Linked DNA regions of Homo sapiens. The protein of the gene in region 6 purifies or fractionates together with the protein of the main gene of each other region. This does not show direct contact. Each region holds a gene or a part of one and is shown on either strand. Other genes may lie near its edges.

What was found.
Region 1: the proteins of RNF114 (region 6) and TMEM171 purify together in Homo sapiens (co-immunoprecipitation; one large-scale study listed by IntAct). This does not show direct contact.
Region 2: the proteins of RNF114 (region 6) and USO1 purify together in Homo sapiens (affinity purification with mass spectrometry; 2 studies listed by BioGRID and IntAct, with this or other methods). This does not show direct contact.
Region 3: the proteins of RNF114 (region 6) and DTX3L purify together in Homo sapiens (affinity purification with mass spectrometry, with the first as the bait; one large-scale study listed by BioGRID). This does not show direct contact.
Region 4: the proteins of RNF114 (region 6) and TWF2 purify together in Homo sapiens (co-immunoprecipitation; one large-scale study listed by IntAct). This does not show direct contact.
Region 5: the proteins of RNF114 (region 6) and CBLN4 purify together in Homo sapiens (co-immunoprecipitation; one large-scale study listed by IntAct). This does not show direct contact.
Region 7: the proteins of RNF114 (region 6) and IDI2 purify together in Homo sapiens (affinity purification with mass spectrometry; 3 studies listed by BioGRID and IntAct, with this or other methods). This does not show direct contact.

The regions. Positions count from the first base shown.
Region 1 is NC_000005.10:73,123,575-73,127,074, reverse strand, and holds part of TMEM171 (transmembrane protein 171), read right to left. Parts: coding exon 3,062-3,500; intron 1-3,061.
Region 2 is NC_000004.12:75,804,577-75,808,076, reverse strand, and holds part of USO1 (general vesicular transport factor p115), read right to left. Parts: intron 2,938-3,500; coding exon 2,774-2,937; intron 1,592-2,773; coding exon 1,505-1,591; intron 1-1,504. UniProt on the Homo sapiens protein: General vesicular transport factor required for intercisternal transport in the Golgi stack; it is required for transcytotic fusion and/or subsequent binding of the vesicles to the target membrane.
Region 3 is NC_000003.12:122,570,838-122,574,337, forward strand, and holds part of DTX3L (E3 ubiquitin-protein ligase DTX3L), read left to right. Parts: intron 1-840; coding exon 841-910; 3' UTR 911-3,500.
Region 4 is NC_000003.12:52,232,659-52,236,158, forward strand, and holds part of TWF2 (twinfilin-2), read right to left. Parts: intron 2,449-3,500; coding exon 2,371-2,448; intron 1-2,370. UniProt on the Homo sapiens protein: Actin-binding protein involved in motile and morphological processes. Inhibits actin polymerization, likely by sequestering G-actin. By capping the barbed ends of filaments, it also regulates motility.
Region 5 is NC_000020.11:55,999,689-56,002,519, forward strand, and holds part of CBLN4 (cerebellin-4 precursor), read right to left. Parts: intron 1,160-2,831; coding exon 1,043-1,159; intron 1-1,042. UniProt on the Homo sapiens protein: Acts as a synaptic organizer in specific subsets of neurons in the brain. Essential for the formation and maintenance of inhibitory GABAergic synapses.
Region 6 is NC_000020.11:49,939,397-49,942,896, reverse strand, and holds part of RNF114 (E3 ubiquitin-protein ligase RNF114), read right to left. Parts: intron 2,602-3,500; exon of another isoform or gene 2,497-2,601; intron 1,337-2,496; coding exon 1,186-1,336; intron 1-1,185. UniProt on the Homo sapiens protein: E3 ubiquitin-protein ligase that promotes the ubiquitination of various substrates. In turn, participates in the regulation of many biological processes including cell cycle, apoptosis, osteoclastogenesis as well as innate or adaptive immunity.
Region 7 is NC_000010.11:1,023,060-1,027,185, forward strand, and holds the start of IDI2 (isopentenyl-diphosphate delta-isomerase 2), read right to left. Parts: upstream 2,801-4,126; 5' UTR 2,757-2,800; intron 1,686-2,756; 5' UTR 1,665-1,685; coding exon 1,523-1,664; intron 1-1,522. UniProt on the Homo sapiens protein: Catalyzes the 1,3-allylic rearrangement of the homoallylic substrate isopentenyl (IPP) to its highly electrophilic allylic isomer, dimethylallyl diphosphate (DMAPP).

The DNA.
Region 1 (3,500 bases), on a different chromosome or scaffold from region 6:
TACCAAAATTTCACCCATACAGATGAAGGTTGAACCCAAAGAAGTTTGGTTTTTGCATTTCTGTGGCTACTGTTCACTCCAGAATACATCCTCATGTTTTGAGGAGAAACTAGGGACCAGATGCAAACTCTAATTTGTATTCCGATTCCAATATAAAATGCACCACACAAGTGGACCAGAACAGTGTAGAGCTCTGGCAGCACCACTGCTGGGGGCCTGGTGAAAGCCTCTGAGAAGCTGGCAATAGCAATAACAGTTCAGAAAAAATGAAGAAGATGGGGCTTTACTTCCCTGTAGTGGTTCACACTCCTAGCATGTCTGATGCTTGCTTAGGGTGGCATAGGATTCTTTAAAGTGATGGGGGTTCCAACCTGAACAAGCTAGGCGACCTCCTTGACCTCAGCCGCCACAGCTGTAAACTGCAGGCCAGGCAGTTCTTGCATCACAGGACAGATAGAAGGAAGGACTAGATGGACTGATTTGCATCTGGCAGTGAACACAGTGCGGAGCACAGAGCCAACTCTCTCAGCTCAACACCAGCCGAGGGCACTGATTTGCATGATGAAGAAACACCACAGAGGCAATTGGCCACTGGCTCCACTCTCTACCCTTCATGAGCCACAGCAGCCTCAATCATTTCCCAGAGGGAATTTAGCCCTTCAGAAAATGCATTAATTCCATCTCCCCTTCCTTCTCCAAGGAGAAGGCAATGAGAGTTTAAAATACGTTTTGCTAATCTAAAGGTGAGAAAGCATAATAGCGGTCCTGAGATTCTCATTTACTTTTTTAGAAGGTCTTGGTAGGTTAGAGGAATTGGGGTTGTGTTCACTTCCATTACACACTGTAGAATAAAGAACCTGTGAAGTAACCCTTGAGGGCAGGCCAATCACCTCTCAAAAACACACAAGGATATGCTCCAGTAACCCTGTTACCTCCAAGGGTCTCCAGCCCTTTGGCCCAGCAGCTCCGCCTGCCCACACCCTGCAACCTGCTCTCCCTGGAAAGAGGCCTCTCCTCTGCGAGTTCCCTTTCATGCGTCTTTCAGAACTTGATGTCCTCTGTGAGCAGACAACATATACACCCCTCCAAGGAGAGCTGTCTCATATACCTGCTGTGTATCCAGGATAGCACTGAGTGTACCCACAACAAGGAGAGCATGCTTCTTGGATTCTAAAAATGTAAACCCTATTCCACAATATCAAAGGAGAGGAATTAGGATGCAAGATTTTCATAGGTTTGATGGGGACTTAAAGAGTTAAGTAGAAAAGATTTTAAACCATGCAGTGCCAACTTCAGGACAAGGACACCAGGAGCAGCACCACAGCTCTGTCCACTCTGATTCCAGCTACCAGGTGGAAGGCTGGGCCCCAAAACTCCCCTCGAACCGTTCCCAACTAGATGAAAGCATAGCAGCGTTGGATGAACATATTTACTTGTACCCCACGGTGTTCCTCAAGAACACTAAGAACATCTATCAAATTAAAGGGAGCCCCTTTTTTCATGTAATAACTTCCAGGAACACTTGGTGAAGGATAAAATGGAATCACACCCACGTGCCCTGGGCAGGGTGCTATGCAAGGGCTATTCTGTGGGTGTGCCCAGACACTTGGGTTGGAACCTTGCTCTACCACTTGCTAGGGTGTGACCTTAGGCAAGTCACTTGATATCTACATGCCTCATCTTCTTCCTGTGTAACATGGAGGTACTAACGTTATCTGCCCCCTTGGATTGCTGTAGGTGTGAATGAATTTCACACAGGGGACCTTTAAGAGCACATGATAAAGCACTTAAATGGGTGTTTGGCACAAAAATAGACCCTATATAAGTGTTAGCTATTGTGAATATATAACTAATATTTGTGTTGTCACCATAAATATATTAATGCATAAATATATTAATAAATAAGCTGGGAGCATCTACCCTGGCTCTACACAAGGAATGGCTGCAGATCCATCTGCCCCTCCTCTCCAAGGCTGGTGCCATGCAAGTCCAGCAACCCAGTTCCTCCCCTCCAGGCTGCAGTCAGTGAATTCCACTGCTTCCAGTAGACAGCCCCAAACAGGAGATGCATCTCACTTGTCACATTCCCTCTCTGTCCTCTCCATGGTTTCTGTTCTGAAGATCTCTTTTCCTAGCCTTTTAAATGTCAGTGGTTTCACAACTTTACTCTTTCAAAAGTAGGAGACTGAAAAAAAGTGATCTGCCAATGAACAGCGATGGGGTTTTTCCTTGGTTGTGTGAAGCTGAGGCCAACGCTACTGCTATTGTTCTGAGGGGGCAGGCTCTGGGAAATGGCACTCCATCTCTTCTGTAGAACCCGGGGGACCCAAAAGGAACTTGTAGGCATTCCACGGGAGAAAGGTGCTGTCATATTCCATCTTGGTTCATCCCGCTGCTTCCAAGCTTTGCCTCAGCCCTGCAGCCACGGATGATGTCACAAAAAAAGAAGGACAACACAGAGACAGTGCAGAGGCCCCTCAAAACACCTGGAGACTGCTGGACTCAGACAGATCCAGAATCCTAGAATGTTAGTGCTGCAGGAATCTTAGAGAGGCACTGCTCATTTTATAGAGACATAAACCAAGGCAGGAGAGGTTAAGGACTTACAAGGACAGCCAGCTAGTGACAGCCTGGGAGGAGAAACCAAGTGTCCCACAACTAAAATGCTATGTGGTTTTGGTGTGAGAATAACAGGGGTAACAGGGTCACTTAGTGAGTCCCTAAGGTGGCAGAAGGCTCCAAGGCTGTCCTCATGGTTCTTCTCACTTTCCTCTTAATTTGCTCTGTGACCTCAGTCAAGGTCACTACTTAATATCCCAATGCTTTGCAAAGTAGGAAAGAGTTGCTGGGGGGGAAAAGATGTATACAAGGTTCCTACGGGGCTTCCCACAGCAGCACCATTGTGTATGTACACATGATGGGGGTGTGTGCGTGTGCACACACATGTGTGAGAGATGGAAGAATTGAGAAAGAGAATCCAGACGAGAACCAAGAGCAGCTGGTGAAACCCTGCTGCAAAGCCACTGTGATAGAAGCAAGAACGCAAATAACAGCAACCCACCTACAGTGACCTGGACAGGCTCCATAATCTGGATCTGTCCCTCTTCTCTCTCAGAGGCATCCTGGCCAGCATTCAGCGTGTTTCTCTTCTTAACATGGGCAACCACGAAGAAACACAATCCCACAAGCACAATCAAGGGCCCCATGATCTGCAGAGAAAGGAACCCACACATCCGGGGCTCTGAGTCGCCAGTGTCTGTCTCGTTTAGCGGTTCCTGCGCCCAGTTGGAGCCACATCCAGGGACCCAAATGCCCAGGACGCTGATGAGCATGCCGCTTGTCAAGAACAGAAACCCAAAGATAAGGCACTGGGCAAACTGGCGGCTCTCTCCACAGATGAAGGCTCGGTCGGGGTCCATCTGCTGACCTCTCTGCAGCCCTGCACGGAGCTGAAGTTGCGCCCGGGAGCGGGCCAGGATCACAGCCCCAAGCCCAACCAC
Region 2 (3,500 bases), on a different chromosome or scaffold from region 6:
GTAAGTGGTGGGACAATGGCAAGTAAAAGGCTCTTTTCTTTTGGTTCTCTTTAAAATTTCTATCATGTACATTTGTGGCTTTTCTAATTTATTTTGTTTAGTTATTAAAATGAGTTACAGTTTTCTATATATAGTACTTTACTATATATTATAAAAAACAAAACTGTCACTTAAAAAATACATATATTTTAACAATCTAAAGTTTATAAAAGTAAATAAACTGGAGAAAGTAAAAAAACTAAAAGGCAATTCTCTTTTTATAAAAATATCTAATTAAAGTTTCACTGGGAAAGATAATTAAATGGCTTATTTTTACTTAGAATTTACAAACTAAGGCTATATATTAGTAACTTAATTCCCTTTAATTTTAATACAGTTCTAGTATAGGTACACTTAATAAAACCAAAAGAGCATATTAATCTTCCCACACAAATAAAACATTGTGAACAAATATTGGAGACCTGAAAATCCTCAAATGATAAGTGATTCTTTTTTTAAAAAGAGGTCAGATATTTAGAATCTACTCTGAGGTACATGGACATTATCAAAATAAGACAAAATTTCTCTATGTTCAGTCATTTCTCTTTCAAAGCAGCCATGTCAGTGGACTAGGGCCAGTTGCTTAGTGGAGAGAGAAGGAAGACAGTTAGTCCTAGGTTAGTGAGGATGGTCATTTTTTAGTATTGCTTGGATTAAAAAAAAAAAAGTATGCATTTCTTTTATAATAAGAAAGAAAGGAGGGAAAGAAGAAAAGAGAGAGAAGAAAAGAGAGGAGGAAAGAAAAACAACCCCAGAACCTGTTTAGGGATAATATACTCTAGAGTTTTCTTCCAATTGCTACATTATTTAATTGTAAGTATACAGAGTTCATTTCTCTCTTTTGATTCTTTTCTTGAACAATACATTTAAATTTTTTCATTGGATAAAGGTAAATCTGTATGATCTAGTTTAACAGGAATTTATAAATACTATAAGCAAGTAGAAAAAAGTTTAACTTGCTTTTCTAGATGTTATAAATTACCACAGAAAAAGTTTATTTTGCTTTTTAGCTGGAGTCATTTAATTGAGATATAGGTAAGTTTACCTTTCTTCTCTTTTCCAATTCTAAAATTCTATATTTTCTAGACAAAACAGTTTAAAAACCCCATACATTTAGTCAAGCAATTATCATAGTATATTAAAATTAGGCATAAGATTTTACATTTTCATATTTGCAAGTTATAAATTTAAATTTTTCCTTGTTAGTTCACTGATAATCTATAAATAACATGGGTGAGATGCTGAGATTTTTTAAAAGGAATACCTCTGAAAAATAAAAACACAATAAAAAGCAAAGTACTATTACCATATAAATAGAAACAGCTTCTGGATTTTCAAATGGCTGTCTTAACTTAAATTTTACTTACATCTGCTAATATAGTTCTAGATTTGTGAAACTATAGGGCTGTTATTCTATTATAATTAAAACATGACAAAGTAGAATTGGATCAAAGTGGAAAATTACCTGTTTTAATTCTGCAACTTGTTCAGAATCTCTAGCTGAAACTATTGCTGAAGACTGTTCATTTGTGCCAGATGTTTGGGAAGATTTCTGCAAATAGCACAAAAATAAACTATAAAATATATTCAGTCTAAAGAGATGAGAAAAAAAAACAGAACTGTACACATATAAACTATATCATATGTGCTTACCAAAAAATTCACACCAACCTTTTAATTTTTATGCCCAAGATAAAATTCCAACACAGCACATATTGTCTACAACTTTTTCATGGCTAAAAATCCATTTGTAGGCTGGGTGCGGTGGCTCATGCCTGTAATCCTTGGGAGGCCAAGGCCAGTGGATTGCTTGAGCTCAGGAATGCAAGATCAGCTTGGGCAACACGGTGAAACCCTATCTCTACTAAAATACAAAAAATTAGCCGGACGTGGCAGCGTGCACCTATAATCCCAGCTACTCGGGAGGCTGAGGCAGGAGAACTGCTAGAACCTGGGAGGTGGAGGTTGCAGTGAGCCGAGATTGTGCCACTGCGCTCCAGACTGGGCTAACAGAGCGAGACTCTGTCTCTAAAGAAAAAAAAATAAAATTTTTATTTTACCGAGCAATTTATTAAATCTAAGCATTTACCTGCGTTCATATGGAGAAAGAGCATAAAAGCAAACATTTATTAAATAATTTCCATCTATTAGAAGAGTAAATTAAATCTCACAACAATGAACTAGACATTACCACTACCATTTTATAGATCAGGAAACAAGTTTAAAGAGGTTAACTAAATTGCTTAAATTCAATGAGCCAGGAAGCATTGAAGTTTAAACAGTTTGACTCTAAAGCTCATCCTGTAAAATCTTTTTTTTTTTTTTTTTAGATGGAAAGTCTCCCTCTGTCGCACAGGCAATGAGGTGAAGTGGGGTGATCTCGGCTCACTGCAACCTCTACCTCCTGGGTTTAAGAGATTCTCCTGCCTCAGCCTCCTGCGTAGCTGGGACTACAGGTGCCTGCCACCATGCCCGGCTAATTTTTGTATTTTTAGTAGAGACAGGGTTTCGCCATATTGGCCAGGCTAGTCTTGAACTCCTGACCTCAGGTGATCCGCCCACCTCAGCCTCCCAAAGTGCTAGGATTACAGGCGTAAGCCACTGTGCCTGGCCCATCCTGTAAAATCTTAACATATGATATTCTGGCTTAAGAGATCCAAGGAAAAAAAAAAAAGGCAGGATAATGAGAACCACTCTTGAACTCTTATTTTAACTTCTTAAACATTTACTTTACCATATTTTCAATCATAGAGTCCTTTTCAGTCAGCTGGCTTTGTAAAAGTTCCTGATTACGTTTTAATTCTTCTATCTCTTCTCGCAATCTACCAATTTCTTCTGGCTGAATGCCATTCATCTGAGCCCCCTCACTGTAAGAACCTTGATGCTGATTGTCTTTTCCTGTTAGACAGACATAACATTTTAAAAGCCAACGGGAAACTTCAGTTTTTCATTTTTGAAGTAGAAGATTCAAATATGTAATTTTCTTCATTCAATTACTTTGGCAGCACTTTTGCAATCACATTTCATCTTTGCAGAATGGTATACTGATAAAAATAGTGAACTGATAGTATTTTCCAGATTTCTGGGAGAAAAAACAGCACAGCCTTGACTAAACTGCATGGTCTGGTGATCTATGATTAAGAATTACAGTAATTTTAATTCCAATTCTGTCAACTGAATATGAGAAAATAAAATCCTTTTAAAAAATCTTCACAAGCACCGTAGGATAATACTATTTAAAAGCAGTGGAGCTCTTGCCATTTTCCAGGCACAACTTAAATTTTTCATTTATTATATCATTTAGTTCTCAAATGTTATTACTATCTTCATTTTGCAGAAGAGGAAACTGAAAGATTACAGCGGTCATTCTTAATCAGCTATACATTAGAATCACCTGGTGGGCTTATACTAGTTACTGATCCCTGGACCTAATCCCAGATTTATTAAATCAGAAACACTAT
Region 3 (3,500 bases), on a different chromosome or scaffold from region 6:
CAACTTCTACCCTGCCAGCTATAAAGTACTATGGAGTTATTTAAATTTTGCACCAAAGGACAGGGGGCTTTTGAATCCGAGATGAATACTATATAAGCTGATTTAATTTGAGGCGTTGTGTCTATCTGAAGGCTAGATGCTCGGAATGTCACTTTGCTTCCTTTTAAGGTCACCTTTCTTTTTCACCCCTTCCCCCACCAGTCCACAGAGAACCTGAAATCACTTGGCCAATAATATTCTAGAAAAAGTCTAAGTTGTGAGGAGACTATTGGTAGAAACTGTATTATACGAAATCCAATTGTTCTTTATGAAACCCAAATAGGATTCCTCAGACCCTTGGCACTAAAGAAAAAATATATACCCTGAGACTTTTCCAAAACCTTAAATTTGAAAATCCTACTAGCATGTGATTACGATGCCCCCCTAAAACACAGTATATTATTATATTTTTAGGAGAGTCACTACTTACCATAAACTGAAAAATTTTAAGAATTAACATAGACATGAAGCCTCAAAGTAAATCAACGTATTACTATTCATCTTGGATTCTCAAACCCCCTGCCCTTTGATGCGAAATGTAATAAATACATCATATTAATACTTTGTAGTTGGCAGGGTAGAAGCCAGCTTGAAAGGCAGATGCTGGCCAGACAGCTAGGCTCACTCGCTAGCGAAATGACTCGCATCTGCGAATTTAAAAGTCATGATACGTCATCCACCTTCAGGATTACTTGTGAATGTTTGCAACACTGGATATTAATTAAATCCTTAAATGCTGGATATCTATTGCACATATCCGAACAATTTGTGGTGACACTAAAGGAATTTTTGTTTCTTCAGGTATGGCTATCCTGATCCTTCTTACCTGAAACGTGTCAAAGAGGAGCTGAAAGCCAAAGGAATTGAGTAAGACAACTGCTGGAAGATGTCTTAAATCAAGCTTTCAAAAAAATATATTTTAGGAGGCTGATTTAATGCCAGTCTAAATCCTTATGTAGAAAGGACTTTGAAATTTTTCTTCTCAAGAAATGGTTTGTATAAGAATAACAATCTGCTAGTCTGTCATTTCTGGAGTGATACTTTTTTTTTTGAGACGGAGTCTGCTCTGTCGCTCGCGCTGGAGTGCAGTGGCATGATCTCGGCTCACTGCAAGCTCCGCCTCCCAGGTTCATGCCATTCTCCTACCTCAGCCTCCCGAGTAGCTGGGACTACAGGCGCCCACCACCATGCCCGGCTAATTTTTGTTTTTGTATTTTTAGTAGAGACAGGGTTTCACTGTGTTAGCCAGGATGGTCTCGATCTCCTGACCTCGTGATCCGCCCGCCTCAGCCTTCCAAAGTGTTGGGATTATAGGCGTGAGCCACCGCGCCCAGCCCTGGAGTGATACTTTTTATGGAAGACAAAAGCCCCCCAAATCTGTGTAAAATCTGCTGCAAAGGTGTCATCCCTCTTGTGTCATCACTGGGGTTAGAGGTGGGTCCGAAATAATCTTCTGTGTCCTTCAGTTGGACTCTCGGCTGCCAATTGATCTCTTTTTCATTGCCATCTCTGGGGTGGTTCTTTGGTTTTTTGTGTGTTTTCCCCTTCATCTCTACCTGTGAAAGTGAAATTCTATTGTAAATGGGAGGAAAAAGGGTTGGTTGTGAAAAATTAAAGACCCACATTCTGCTTTCTTACTCATGGTAAGAAAAGTGGCCATGAGTAGAGATTGGGCAAGCATTGGTAATAAATGGAATAAGACTATTATTATTATTATTTGAGATGGAGTCTCACTCTGTCACCCAGGCTGGAATGCAGTGGTGTGATCTTGGCTCACTGCAACCTCCACTTCCCGGGTTCAAGCGATTCTCCTGCCTCAGCCTCCTGAGTAGCTGGGATTACAGGTGTGTGCCTCCACACCCGGCTAATTTTTTGTATTTTTAGTAGAGACGGGGTTTTGCCATGTTGGCCAGGCTGGTTTCAAACTCCTGAGCTCAAATGATCCTCCTGCCTTGGCCTCCCAAAGTGCTGGAATTACAGGCATGAGCCACCACACCCACACAAGACTATCATTTTTAATGACCAAGAGCCTAGTATATAGTTGGTGCCTGTCTTAGTCTGTTTGTGTTGCTATAAAAGAACACCTGAGACTGGGTAATTGATAAAGAAAAAGGTTTGTTTGGCTCACAATTTTGCTGGCTAGAAGGTTGGGCATCCGGTGAAAGCCTCAGGCTGCTTCCATTCATAGCAAAGGGCAGCCAGTGTGTGCAGAAATCAAATGACAGAGAGGAAGTGAGAGAGAGAGGTGTCGGGGAGGTGCCAGGCTCTTTTTAACAAGCAGTTCTTCAGGAACTAAGAGTGAGTCACTCCCATGAGAACAGCACCAAGCCATTCATGGGGGAATCTGCCCCCATGACCCAGACCCCTCCCGTTAGGCTTCACCTCCAACACTGAGGATCAAATTTCAACATGAGATTTGGAGGAGGTCAAACAAACTAAACTGTAGCAGTGTTTCATAAAATTGTTTGCCTGACTCAGGTTGCTAGTAAGCCAGCAGAGGGATATTTGCCTCCTAAATCTTTGGCAGAGGCAGGAGTAAGGAAGCCATTTCTGGAGTCCTTGCTACTAATTTGGAAAACTGAGCTTCTTTCTTTCATTGCTTTTTCCCTTAAGAGACAAGTCCTTACTATATTGCCCTGTCTCTCAAGGGAAGACATCAAGACTGGACTTGAACTCCTGGGCTCAAGCCATCCCCCAACCTTGGCCTCTCGAGTAGATGGGATTATAGGCATGTGCCACGGTGCCTGACTTGAGTTTCTTATTCTAGAACACTTGGAGCCTGAACTCTGACCAGGCCCCTCACTTGAGCCTTTGCTTTCTGCTCCTTGTAAACTGCCATATTGGGTGCACTTGCCCTGCCACAGTAATGCTATATATTTCTGAGCATTGTTTTTCTCTAGATAATTTTATATTTTTGAGTATACCCCACTTCCAAGTGTTTTTTGTTTTGTTTTGCTTTGTTTTTGTTGTTGTTGTTTTGAGACAGGGTCTCACTGTGTCCCCCAGGCTGGAGTGCAGTGGCACAATGACGACTCACTGCAGCCTCAACCTCCTGGGGCCAAGTGATCCTCCCACCTCAGCCTCTCAAGTGGCTGGGACCACAGAAGTGCACCACCATGCCTGGCTTTTTTTTTTTTTTTTGGTCGAGATGGGGTGTCCCTGTGTTGCCCAGACTGGTCTTGAACTCCTGGACTCAAGGGATCCTCCTGTCTTGGGCTCCCAAAGTGTTGGGATTACAGGCGTGAGTGACCATGCCTAGCTCACTTCCAGGTTTAACAGACAAAATAAACTTACTCTAGTTTCCATCTCTATCATTTTATAATAACCGTAGCCCACATTGTAGTAGTTTTTCAGCTCTTTACTAAGTCCCACCAATTCATGTTTTCACCCTTAAAATCTTTCTCACTGATACTCTCTCTGGACAGAAAAAAGGTGAAATAAGCCTACTATAAGGAATATAT
Region 4 (3,500 bases), on a different chromosome or scaffold from region 6:
CCTACCAGACCCTGGATAAACAGACATCCTGCGGCTACCTGCCAGCTGCAGTCCCCTCGAAAATGTCACAGATCCTTGCCGGGCGCGGTGGCTCACGCCTATAATCCCAGCACTTTGGGAGGCAGAGGCAGGCGGATCGCCTGAGGTTGGGAGTTCGAGACCACCCTGACCAACATGGAGAAACCCCGTCTCTACTAAAAATACAAAATTAGCTGGGTGTAGTGGCCTGTAATCCCAGCTGCTCGGGAGGCTGAGGTGGGAGAATCGCTTGAACCCAGGAGGCGGAGGTTGTGGTGAGCAGGAGATGGCGCCATTGCACTCCAGCCTGGGCAACAAGAGCGAAACTCCGTCTCAAAAAAAGAAAGAAAATGTCGCAGATCCAAAGCAGCCACCATCTAAGTGCCTAGGCCCCACAGGCCTGCTAGCTCCTTGGCTGAAATGGGGCATCCAGCTGCACTTGTAGACTGGGACCTCATCTGGGCACCAGACACCAGCCTGGGTATACACAGGTCTAGCCTGGAGCAATAACTGGGGCAAAGGGGCAGTCAGCCTGGCTGGGGGTCCTGGTGTCAGTCCACCAGACTCTCCTGATCTGGGCAGGGGCCCCGATGCCTGGACGCCCCAACAGACCAGGCCCTCTGAGGCCTCGGCCTCCTCACCTGCCCACCCAGAACTCAGACAGGATCACAGTCACAGTGACTTTGAGTAGTCACGGCCTGTGTTGGCCCCTACAGCACTGTCAACATTGCTTAATTTGTTGCTAACATTTTCAAACTGGGAAATTTTACATAAGAAGTAGAATTCTCAGCCTCTCTAGAAAAATCAGGCCCTCTGGCCACACTGGAGCCATCCTCAATTGGAGATGGACAGTGGCTGCCCATCGGGGGCCTGGACCCTCCTGGGCAGTCCCAGGTACCCCAACAACTGTCATGCAGAACTGAGATAAAAGTCAATCCAGAGATTCCTCCTGCTTAAAATCTTCAGGGACGGCTGGGCACGGTGGCTTATGCCCGTAATCCCAGCACTTTGGGAGGCCGAGGTGGGCGGATCACGAAGTCAGGAGATTGAGACCATGGTGAAACCCCGTCTCTACTAAAAATACAAAATTAGCCGGGCGCAGTGGTGGTCGCCTGTAGTCCCAGCTACTCGGGAGGCTGAGGCAGGAGAATGGCGTGAACCCGGGAGGCGGAGCTTGCAGTAAGCTGAGATCACACCACTACACTCCAGCCTGGGTGACAGAGCGAAACTCCGTCTCAAAAAAAAAAAAAAAAAAAAAAATCTGCAGGGACATCTTGTCTGGGAGGCAACAGGGAGGGCCGAGGACTGGGGTCAATGAGTACAACTGCCTTTTTAAGGGTGGGGTGGCTGTGGCCTGCCACTCCAGGAAGCCATCACTAATATTCTGCCACAGTGACCCCTGCCCAGTCTCTGAGGGCATCAGAATTTGGACTCCCTGGGCAAAGCACTGCCAAGGCCCTAAAACCTGGAATGGCAGATCCTGCTTTGAGCCAACACAACGCGTGGAAAGCCAGCTGAGCACCAGGCCCATTCAGGCAGCCATCCAAAGTGCCTGCTGCTGAATGGCTAATGAGAAGAGCTGGGAGGACCTCTGGGGAGCCTGGCCCACCCCAGTCCCAAAGTCTGTACCCCTCACCCAAAGGGACAGTCCATTGGCATGGAGGAAAGGTGAAAAAATGTTCTCTGGCCTCTGACCTCCCAATCCTCCTCAGTTTAATCCTCTGCCTCCCCAAACCCTCCCCACTTCAGGCCTCAGCTCAAGTCCCAGTGTCCCCAGCACTGCCCTCTATACAGCTCCCAGGTCCTCAGGGGCAAGGCCAAAGCCCAGCCAAGCCTAGAACCCTCCCATCCTACTCTCAGATGAGCCAGACACTCATCCCTTCTCCCCATCATGGGGGCACTTCCAAGAGAAGGGTGCAGGATCTCCTTAGGTCTCCCCTCGGACAGCAGCTGAGCCAGGCCAGGCCACCAACAAATGAGGCGGGTGGCACCAGCCACAAGGGGCAGTGCTGGATTCACTTATCCCCTGCCCCTCTGCCCAGCCCAGCTCGGCATCCTGGCCAGGCCCATCTGAATATCCATGCAGCCTCTGGGAGGTGGCAGGACCCCAGGACAGGGCTCTATTTGCTGACCCCAGCTTCGGCTTCCTGCTCTGCATAACAGAGGTGACAATTGCGCCCACCTCTGATGCTGCCCTGTGAGGCTCTCCTTTGTCAGGATGGCCTCACACCCATTTCCAGAGTGGGAAATTGAGGTCCCGGCAGGCCAGGGGCCAACATCCTCCTTCCCCCACCCACAGAGGCAGCAGAGTCCACCCCCAAGCCTATACCCTGGCCTGTGAGGGGCACTCACCGTCCTCAATCACAACCTTGATGAGCCGCACAGAGCCAGCCCGTGCCTTGGCAAAGAATTCCTTCAGCTCTTCCGTGGCTATAAGAACAAGAAACATGGTGGGGGATGAGTGGGCAGAGTGGACAGAGACGAGTATGGGGCCTGCTCTGTCCCACAGGGTCTGGTGGCTGAGCTGGGAACCAGGTTAAATACAGCCCCCCATGTGACTGGGAACCTGAGACAGCCACTGAACACAAGCTCCCAAATTTAGCCAGCAGAGGTGGCAGGCGAGTGGCCTGCTGGCTGGGATAGGTCTGGTGATGGGGCGGGGTGGGCAGGGATGGGACAACCCACCAGAAGATGGGCAGGCTCTGGCATAAGCCAGGCCAGCCACAGTGAATAGCCTCCATCTGCCCCCTGCCCCGCAGGATGGCCGAGCTCTGGGCTGGCCTGGACACACTCAGCACAGTCATATACACAGAAAAAAGAACACAGACAAATGCCCCCACTGTGCAATGACCACTATGCCCATTCACACACACACACACACACACACAGCTCAATCCAGCATGTGTGAATGTAACACACAACACGCATGTGTGACAGAGGAGCAGAAATTCAAACACCCTCATACATGAACACATGCTCAGTTGCTCAAACACAAATGGACACGCATGTTTAGATACACAAACACACACAGAGATATAGTCCCCGGCTTGCTAACACGCACACAGGCAGGCAAGTGCAGAGCTTGGCTGAGACGTGTGTGCAGGCAACAGGATGTATCAAAGTGTACACAGAAGCACATGGACACGCATGACACCCATGTGTGCAGCCCCAGTCCCAGCCCTCCAGCCAGGCTGTCTAACCCTGAGACCCCGAGGAGCCACAGCCAGCCCAGATACAGCCCTGTGGGGGGTGGGGGGACAACATGACCTTAACCCTCAGGCAGTTGGGGCAGCTTCCAGGAGAAGGAATGGCTCCCCGAAACTCACTAAGAGACTCCATCTTGGTCAGGTGCGGTGGCTCTCACCTGTAATCCCAGCAATTTGGGAGGCCAAGGCGGGCAGATCACCTGAGGTCAGGAGTTCAAGACCAGCCTGGCCAACATGGCAAAACCCCATCTCTACTAAAAATACAAAAATTAGCCA
Region 5 (2,831 bases), 6.1 Mb from region 6:
TGATTTTAGATTTAGATTTTAAATTTTAGAGATTTCAGTGACAGATAATTAGAATCAACTCAAAACTGTATTAACTATTTTCTATTCTTCAATTTTGATTACACTGTGTCAAGCATTGCATACATTTCTAAATATTGGGGGTTGGGAAAACTTTTCCATGGAAGTAAGTTTGTTTTCTAGATTTTTTTAGGTTAAAAGTCATATGGAATAAATTAAATCTGAGGCTGATCCATTTATCCATTTACTAGGACATGTAAAAGTATTAATAGATAAGCATGTAATCTATCATTCATATTGACATAATGTATAACATAAATACTGAGCATAAGATAAAAGGTTATCTTAGAATTCCATGCACATGTATTTGTGTCATTTAGTATTAGCATACTGGAATATTGTTGGAACAAGCTCCACTGTTGCTTTTGAATGTAAGGTCAAGCCCATTGTCTTAGAAAGCAGAACACAAAATATATTAACTGTGGAACTGCAGTTGGTAAGAATTCACTAGCATCAGAGTAACTGAGGATAAACACAAGCATACGCATAGAACACCGTTTTTTAAAAATGTATTTTGAATAGTTCCTCCTTCATAGACTTATTCTTACTGATTAGCTGTATCTCATAATTTTAAAAAATAGCAAATGTGTTTTATTTATTTAGTATGCACTTGTAAAGCTGTACTAGTCTTACAAGTTTTTTTCTTATGAGTTCAAGTAATTCTTGTACATGCATTAAATGAAAGCATGATCTTACAAAGAGATTTGTGTCACTGAATTTTTACTCAACCATGGATTTTTAAAAAATGTTTGATTGTTATTAAGGTAATAACTTCAATTCTCTATTTTTCTATACGCTTTTTGTCACGTCTTAATGGATGTTAAAGAGAAAAAAATTAGAAATTAAGTGTTTTAAAATAAATGATAAAGATGGCTGCTTATTTCTATTGTGGAAACACAACTTTGGATAAGTACTTAAATATATAACCCACTAAAGATAAGCACAGTTGGTTGAGAGTATGGATGGAAGAGGTCAAAACACACACCTGGATAGTTTGGCTCTGGTAGACTTTAATCACGTGAAAACTGAAACTGTAAATTCCTTTTCTTGGTGCTACAAAGACAGACTCCAATGTGAAAAAATTACCCACATTCACCAGGATCTACAAATAAAAATAATAAATAACAATAAGTTATTATATTTTCTTCTGTAACTAAAATGAATTTTCTTCCTCTCACTCTCTTCCTCTCCTCTTCCTTCTTTCCCTCCTTCCTTCATTCCTTCCTTCCTCTTTCTTTCTTTTCTTTTTTCTTTTGTTCATTCATTCATTCTTGGCAACTAGCTTAAGAAATCATAGAAAATAAAACATCTAGTTCTGTATCTTTCCTCTTAACTGATTTGGAAAATTGACTGGAATACTGGAAGGTTCTTCTGTCTTTTAAATGATATAAGAATAAATAAAGTAACTGCTTTGTATTCATGTCTCAATTTCCAGCAAGGCCCAATGGCTCTGGAAACATCGAGCTAACATTTGAGAACTTATAAATATTAGCTTTACCTTGAGAGTTGGATAAAAGGCACCCGCTATGTGTTTACATTCCCACCTTCTACAAGCCTTTGCAATGTCCAGAGGTGACGTTTCCAAGCCAGCCAATCAGCATCTGTGAGCTCTCCGCAGCATCCCTGGACAAACCACAGAGGCATGGGTACCCCCTCCACCATGTGACATAATCCTTGACACTGAACAGTTGGTGCACAAAGTGATCTGAATGCCTGGCCCTTCTCTGAGCCACCACCACCCCTCTCCTAAGATCTGTTACCATTTTTTTTTTCATTCCTGTGCCAGCTAGGCCTTAATTATAATAATGTGGCAATGAGTCAGCCCTTGTGGGCTGCCAAAGAGGAGAGCATAGAGAAGGCTAAACTATGAAATAGGTGGCTTTCCCTGTTCCTCCCCGGGCTGTCCATTAACCTCCTATCAATCACCTGCTCTTTATTTGAAGTTCAAGGTTCAAAAGTGAAATTAGATACTGTTTCCCAAGAAAGCAACAATGCATTTTGTATTCCAAAATATTCAGCCTAGTTCTATTGGTTATAAAATTAACTCTAAATTTTAATAAGTGACCTCTTAAGCTAAATTTGCAATGTCACATGGGTAAGTCTCTTTCTATGAGAAAGAGGGATTGGGATGGAGGATGGATGTTAAAATAACCAGGGTTTGTTCCATTTCTTTCCAAGAAATACACCTGTAAGTGGCATTCAAAAATAATAAGAGGTCCCTAAAAAGATATACTTCTCATATATCAATGGCAATCTGCTACTATCTCTTTCGAACACTGCATTCTTGCCAATATTAACACACTTGCAAGCCTCTTGCATAATTCCCTAAAAATGTACTATTACCTCTGGGCAACATACCAGAATGTAGTGACAGTCAAGCAGATGTATCAGGCTCAACACCTAACTTAAAACACATGTACGTGTATAATTTCATTCTGAGATTTCGCCTTCTTCCAAGTAAGCATCAGATTTTTTTTGTAACCTGATGATAGATGGTCTTTCAACAAGTCACCAGCTGTGCAATAATCCCCAGCAGAGGCTTTACAAAGAAATTTTTCAAGCACAATTAAAATAATTTGAGGTGCTTAGTGGTGACTTCCTGATTCAGATACAAGTAGCATAATTCATTAGCAATAATGAAAATAGCTGATTAGTGTTGGCTACATATAAAACTGGATGTTGACTCTACACTGTAATTGGAGCATCCAGGTACATCGAGATTTATAACCAAATGTGTGTTCTTGTCTCTAAGATGCAAGGCTCACTGAAAAGAA
Region 6 (3,500 bases):
AAATTCTACAGTGTTTGTCAAAGGGCAGAAAATGTTATGCAGCTTTCGAAATTAAATCACTTTTTTTTTCCTTGAGACAGGGTCCGGCTCTATCACCCAGGATGGAGTGCAGTGGCACGAACTCAGCTCACTGCAACCTCTGCCTCCTGGGCTCAAGCCATCCTCTCACCTCAGCCTCCCGAACAGTTGAGACTACGGGCACACACCACCATGCCCTGCTAGTTTTTTGTATTTTCAGTAGAGCCGAGGTTTCACCATGTTGTCCAGGCTGGTCTAGAACTCCTGGACTCAAGCAATCCACCCACCTTGGCCTCCCAAAGTGTTGGGATTACAGGCATGAACCACCTTGCCAGGCCTTAAGTTGAACGAATTTTGAAGTAATCTCTGGAATGAGGAACAAGCCTACATTATTGTGTACTTTTGTATGGTCTGCAATTTTAAAAATTTTAATGATTCTAAAATCAACAAGGCTGTGTATATCTCTTGGAAAATAAGACAACAGTATTTCTCCTTTCCAGTAGCAGTTATAACAGGTATGAAAATAAATATACTTGACTCTGATTATACAAGAGCATGGATGCATTTCAAATGTTAGCTATTGTTATTACAATCCAATGATTTCATATTGACTTTTTTTTAAGAGACAGGGTCTTGCTGTCAGCCAGGCTGGAGTGCAGTGGCATGATCATAGATCACTGTAATCCCAAACTCCTGGGCTCAAGTGATCCTCTGGCCTCTGCCTCCTGAGTAGCTGGGCCTACAGGTACATACCACCACACCCGGCTAATTTTATTTTTTTGTAAAGATGAGGTCTCACTATGTTGTCCAGGCTGGTCTCTTAACTCCTAGCCTCAAGCTCTTGCCTCGGACTCCCAAAGAGCTGGGGTTACAGGAATGAGCCACCGCGCCTGGCCATAATTGATCTTTTATAGGAAAAAACTGGGATAACTGATTTCTATGGCTTTCAAACCTAAAATATATACTTAACCAACTCTTAAAAAAAGAAACAAAAACCAGTAAGGTTATGAAAACAAACCAGCCCAGCCATCACCACAGGTAATTGGCATGCACGCGTGCTGTTAGTGACCTAGTCATGCTCTAACTTCAGCAACAACATGGCAGCTGTACGTTTTACCCCAACTTATCATGGAAAGACATGGACTCTTCCACATCACTTCCACATACATTCTTACGGCAGCCATGGCAAGAAGTCTCTGTGCTCTCGATCTGCCGCTCGAGCTCCACGGCTCGGACGCCAGGTGCCAGAGCGCTGCGACACACCCCACAGACAGGCTTCTTCGGCTTCAGACATTCCTGCAGGCATGCAGAGCAAAAGCTAGAACAAGACATACAGAGAACCTCTGTCACGCATCATGGAGACAAGACGACAAATATGGATCAACTTTTAAAAAGACATCAATGGATAATGGAGTAAAAAACAACTTGCTCTCTCCTCCCAGTTCAAATACTAAGTCCTTCCAAGCCAGAAAAAATGAGGGATAGGAGTGGACTACAAAGAACACACAACTACAGAAACAAATGCAAACTCCTGTGATAGACACAGTGAAGGTGTTAAGGTTGAGGCTTCAAGCCTTAGGCCCTGCCACTGAAGGATCTCAGTGGGGTTTCTTGAATCTCCATTTTTTCCTTTGTGAAATGGAGAGAGTAGTACCTACCTCTAGGACTGCTGGGAGGATACAGTTTGTATAGCAGACCCCTGGCAGAGTGTCCAGCCCTTACAAAACGCACCACAAACGGGAGCTGCTATCATTACAGGTGAAGGCAAAGCGCTACAGGAACATAAAGGGAAAATCAACTAGTGACCTGAGAAGGAAAGGGCTGGTAAGACTGCAGTGAAGGCTGGGAGCGGTGGCTCACGCCCGTAATCCCAGCACTTTGGGAGGCCAAGGCAGGCAGATCACGAGGTCAGGAGTTTGAGACCAGCCTTACCAACATGGTGAAACCCGTCTCTACTAAAAATACCAAAATTAGCCAGGCATGGTGGCAGATGCCTGTAATCCCAGCTACTCGGGAGGCTGAGGCAGGAGAATTGCTTGAACCTGGGAGGCAGAGGTGGCTGCACACTCCAGCCTGGGCAACAGAGTGCGACTCTGTCTCAAGGGGGGGGTGGAGGGGAAGACTGCAGAGACGGCATCTCTGATCAGCCTTAAAAGGGTTCAGCTCAGCCAGGCGCGGTGGCTCATGCCTGTAATCCCAGCACTTTGGGAGGCCGAGGCGGGCAGATCACAAGGTCAGGAGATCGAGACCATCCTGGCTAACACAGTGAAACCCCGTCTCTACTAAAAATACAAAAATTAGCTGGGAGTGGTGGCGGGTGCCTGTAGTCCCAGCTACTCGGGAGGCTTAGGCAGGAGAATGGCATGAACCCAGGACGCAGAGCTTGCAGTGAGCCAAGATCGCGCCACTGCACTCCATCCAGCCTGGGAGACAGAGCGAGACTCCGTCTCAAAAAAAAAAAAAAAAGGGTTCAGATGGATCCTTTTGTAGTTCATGAACCTGAGGACTGGGTGTTCATGTGCATGTGTGAGATGTGCCACCCTCGAACCTTGTTACAGATGTTGGCCCATTACCCCTCTGGCATTTTAAAAAAAGAGGTCAGCTAGCAGAGGAAGGGAAGACTATTCTAGGCCTAATTTAGGCTTAAAATTGATATGTATCTGAGGAAATAAAAATCTAACAGACTTTTCCTCATAAACAGTAGGGAGCCAGGAGTTTAAAAGGAAGGTATTAACAAAACAAGGCCAAATCCAGGTTTCAGAAAAATATCTCTGTGCTATCATGGAAAACAAAGTTTTGTTACTTTTTTTTTTTTTTTTTTTTTTGAGACAGAGTCGTGCTCTGTTGCCCAGGCTGAAGTGCAATGGTGCAATCTCGGCTCACTGCAAAATCTGCCTCCCCGGTCCAAGCGATTCTCCTGCTTCAGACTCCCAAGTGGCTGGGGTTACAGGCGCGCATGACCACACCCAGCTAATTTTATATTTTTAGTAGAGACGGGGTTTCACCACGTTAGCCAGGCTGGTCTCGAACTCCTGACCTCTGGTGATCCACCCGTCTTGGCCTCCCAAAGTGCTGGGATTACAGGTGTGAGCCACTGAGCCCAGCCCTATAGTTTTTTTTTTTTTTAGGTGAGAAGGTGAGAAGAGACAAAGTAGAAACCAAACAGATGGCTAAAGGCAGAGGATTGTGAGGGTCTGACTGAAGCAGCAGGGGATGAATTCAGGAAACCATTCACAGAAAGGTAGAATCAGGAGGACTTGATAACTTACTGACTTTGAAGAAAAGAAGTCAAAGATGACCGAGTTCCTATCCTGAAGCCTAGGAAGATGGTAATGCTGAGATAAGGCATACAGAAAGAATGGAGAAGACACCCTGGGCTACTTACCCAACCTGATAGATTAAGACAGTATAACCAAATCTGCCAGAAAGAACTAAAGATATATAATGAAAGGCCATCTTCTGAACACTTGACCATTTTCTAC
Region 7 (4,126 bases), on a different chromosome or scaffold from region 6:
CCTGGGTGCTGAGCACCATTTACGACAGCCAAGATATGAGATCAACCTGTGTCCGTGGAGGTTTGAAGGGTTGAAAACATGAGGGTTAGATACACAGTGGCATACCATTCCACCACAAAAGAAGAATGAAATCGGGCCGGGTGCGGTGGCTCACGCCTGTAATCTCAGCACTTTGGGAGGCTGAAGTGGGCGGATCACGAGGTCAGAAGATCGAGACCACCCTGGCTAACATGGTGAAACCCCGTCTCTACTAAAAATACAAAAAAATTAGCTGGGCGTGGTGGCAGGTGCCTGTAGTCCAAGCTACTCGGGAGGCTGAGGCAGGAGAATGGCATGAACCCAGGAGGCAGAGCTGGCAGTGACCTGAGATTGCACCACTGCACTCCAGCCTGGGCAATGGAGCAAGACTCTGTCTCAAAAAAAAAAAAAAAAAGAAGAATGAAATCCTGTCATTTGTAGCAACATGGATGGAACTGGAGGCCATTGTGTTAAGTGGAACAAACCTGGCACAGAAAAACAAGTATCACATGTTCTCACTGCTATGTGGGCTCTAAAGAAGTTGATCTCATGGAGGCAGAAAACACAATGCTAGACACCAGAGGCTGCGAAGGGCAGTGGGGAGGGATGACGAGAGGGTGGTTAATAAGTATAAACATACCGCGATAGAGAAGGAATAATATCAGCTGTTCAATAGCACAGTAGGGTGACTGTAGTTAACAACAGTGTATTATATGTTTCAATGTGGCTAGAACAGAGGATTTGGAATGTTCCCAACACAAAGATATGATGAATGTTTGAGGTGATGGATATCCCAAAATGCCCTATTTGATCATTATGCATGACATGGTGGTATCAAACTATCACATGTACCCCATTAATATGCATAATTATTATGTGTTTATAAAAAAGACACAAAAATGAAAATTAAAAAATAATAAAATGGCTTAAGATGGTCAAAGAAAACCAGAGCTGGACAGGAGTTAAAGCAGGAAAGTCTGACTTTACTGAGAACCATTTCAATAGGGGAAAGAGACCTCCATGGAGAACCAGCCTAACTGCACACAACACCCAAGGAGCAGGCTGGGGCCTATGGATTAAAAGTTACTAAGAGAAAACATCAGTGGGAAGGGGGTTCTGGCTACACCGACCTAACAAGACCTGCTGAAGACAGGCCTGCGTGATCAGACGTCACCTGGGAGGGACGGGGTTGAGGAATTTAATCAGATGCCAAGGTCAGGGTTCTCGCTAAAACAACCTGGTAGAATTCTTGCTGAAACAGGATCTTACGAGGAAGAGCACGGATGCCTAGGAGAAGGTGCAGGAGCCTGACAAGGGCTTGACCAAGCAAAGACGTCATCCAGGTGCTGCTCCCCGAGCCTTCTAAAGACGGCACAGCAAGCACACAGGTGACCCAGTGGTCGCCTCCTAGCCGGAAAGGCCTAGACTCTCTTCTTAGGTTGCCGTCGGGTGGGAAAAATGGGAAAACCCTGGGAACTGGACAGAGAAAATGGGCGGGGGCTACCTTTCTCAATGTTTTCGTTCAGATGGCAATTCCTCTTGGTGTCGGCACCAATAACCTTATCATTCTCATCCACAACAATCAGCATTTCCTCCAAGCGCTGCAACTGACGCCTGTCAACCCAGTCAAGATTTATGTCAGACATAGCTGCTGGCTGTGACCCGACCTGAAATAGATGCACACAAATGCCTCTTTATGTGAAAGATATTGCCATCTCGTTTTTGCTATGTGTTACCAACCACATTAGGATTTAGCATACACCTTCTCTACAAGTGACAGCAATTGTGTTGAAGCAGCACAGTTCTGAGATATGGAAGGTGAATCATCTGTTTCTAATGTGGTGTCTCTCTGAACGGGAAATCTTGGGTACATACATACTCCTCATGTTTTCCAGGTTTCCTTTAGTGACGAGTTAAAGAATCCCCGCCCCACCACACACACACACACACACACACACACACACACACACACACAAAACACACCGAGGTAAACTGTAGGTAACACTCTTTGTACAAGTTTTTGGGGAAAAGTGCAGCCCTGTGCAAAACCACTGGACCTGGATCAGACGTGGAGAAACACACAGCCTTGTAGGAAAGCTACGTCACCCACAGAAGGGCTATGGTCCTCTTCAGAGCCAAGCAGATTCTTAGGTGAAGATCTTCTCACAAAATGTTTTCAGGGCCAGGAGCGGTGGCTCACGTCTGTAATCCCAGTACTTTGGGAGGCCGAGGTGGGAGGATCACTTGAGGTCAAGAGTTTGAGACCAGCCTGGCCAACATGGTGGAACCCTCTCTCTACTAAAAAATACAAAAATTAGCCAGGCCTGGTGGCACATGCCTGTATTCCCAGCTACTCAGGAGGCTGAGGCAGGAGAATCACTTGAACCTGGGAAGCAGAGGTTGCAGTGAGCCGAGATCGTGCCATTGCTCTCCAGCCTGGGCAGACAGAGTGAGACTCTGTCTCAAAAAAAAAAAAAAAAAATGTTTTCAGGGTCATTTATCTTCATGTAAAACCTTCTCATCATCCTTTTCTACTTTTTAAAAAAATGCATTCACGTCTGTCCATTATCATTACTGTTAATATTTTCAGCAATCTGCTCCTCCTCTTTGCAAAAGGCTGTTTGACTTAATGCATGGACATGAGATACAATAGAAATGCAGAGAAAACAATTACTGAATATGTACAAATTTAGATCATAAAAGAAAGAATTCCCACAAGGTAAAACATATGCACTAACCTCTCTTGGAAGCTGGAGACTCCTGGGTATCAGATGTGGAACTCAATGTGCAAGTTGAACCAGGGCCCTTTTATACCCTGGGGATGTAGAAAGATATCAGCTAAGGCAATCTGATATTTTTGTATTCTTAACAAGAAAACACACCCCGGTCTCTCTCTATCTCTCCATCTCTTTCTCTCTATCTTTCTCCCTCTCAATTGAGGGATAATAGAAAATTGTTTTGACACAATCTCACTTTAAAAAATGCTTTTAGTTTTTAAACCTAGGGTAAGTTATTTTCTACTCTATGGCTTTCTTTTTTTTTTTTTTTTTAAGGTGATGTCTAGCTCTGTTGCCCAGGCCAGAGTGCAGTGGCGTGATCTCGGCTGACTGCAACCTCTGCCTCCCGGGTTCGGGCGATTCTCCTGCCTCAGCATCCCGAGTAGCTGAGATTACAGGCGCCCGCCATCACGCCCAGCTAATTTTTTTGTATTTTTAGTAGAGACGAGGTTTCACCATGTTGGCCAGGCTGGTCTCCATCTCCTGACCTCAGGTGATCCGCCCGCCTCGGCCTCCCAAAGTGCTGGGATTACAGGTGTGAGCCACGGCGCCGTTCGATGGCATCTTTTTAATTCACTTGCTGTATATATCATCCCAGATTTTAAAAAGAAAAAATAAAGGTGGCAAATGGAAGAGAAAAATAATAAACATTGTGACTAAAATTACTGAATAAATTCTTAGGATAGCTGAAAATCGATAAATAAATGCAAGACCTTGGAAACCAATGTGTTTGGAAGAGCTAAAAAACTGTATAATTTCTTGCCTATCATATTCCAAATATCATCTACCAACTAAAGCTCTAGGCCAAATAGTTTTGCAAGTAGGGTCTCTTAAAATATCAAAAAAATGTTTGCCATATCTGTCGGTTCTCTCAGGGAATATGAGGAGAGAAGCACGATGGACGCATGACTCCGCTGACTTTGGCACGGATAATACAGAACAAAAATAACACAGCAGCAGTGATGGGTAATATTCTATAAAAAGATTAATGTGTTTTGCTCTTTTGTCTTTCCATAAGTTCACCTTTATGCATGTAATTTTTAGTTACGTAGAAAATCAAAAGGCTATGCCTGAAATGTTTTCCCTGGAAATCAGTTCTGAGACTCAGGAATAAATGGTCTGTTTGAAACTTGTTTCTTTTGCAGTCAGAAGAGTAAGAATGGGAGAATGATACTCTTTTAAAGATCTAAAAAATAATAAATAAGTCTATGAATTAGGCTTTGAGGAAGAAACTAATATACAATACCGTACCTATTATAATCCAACAACTCTAATAGTAATAATAATAATAGTAAGACAGCCAGACACACATTGTGTCCTTCCTTTGTGCC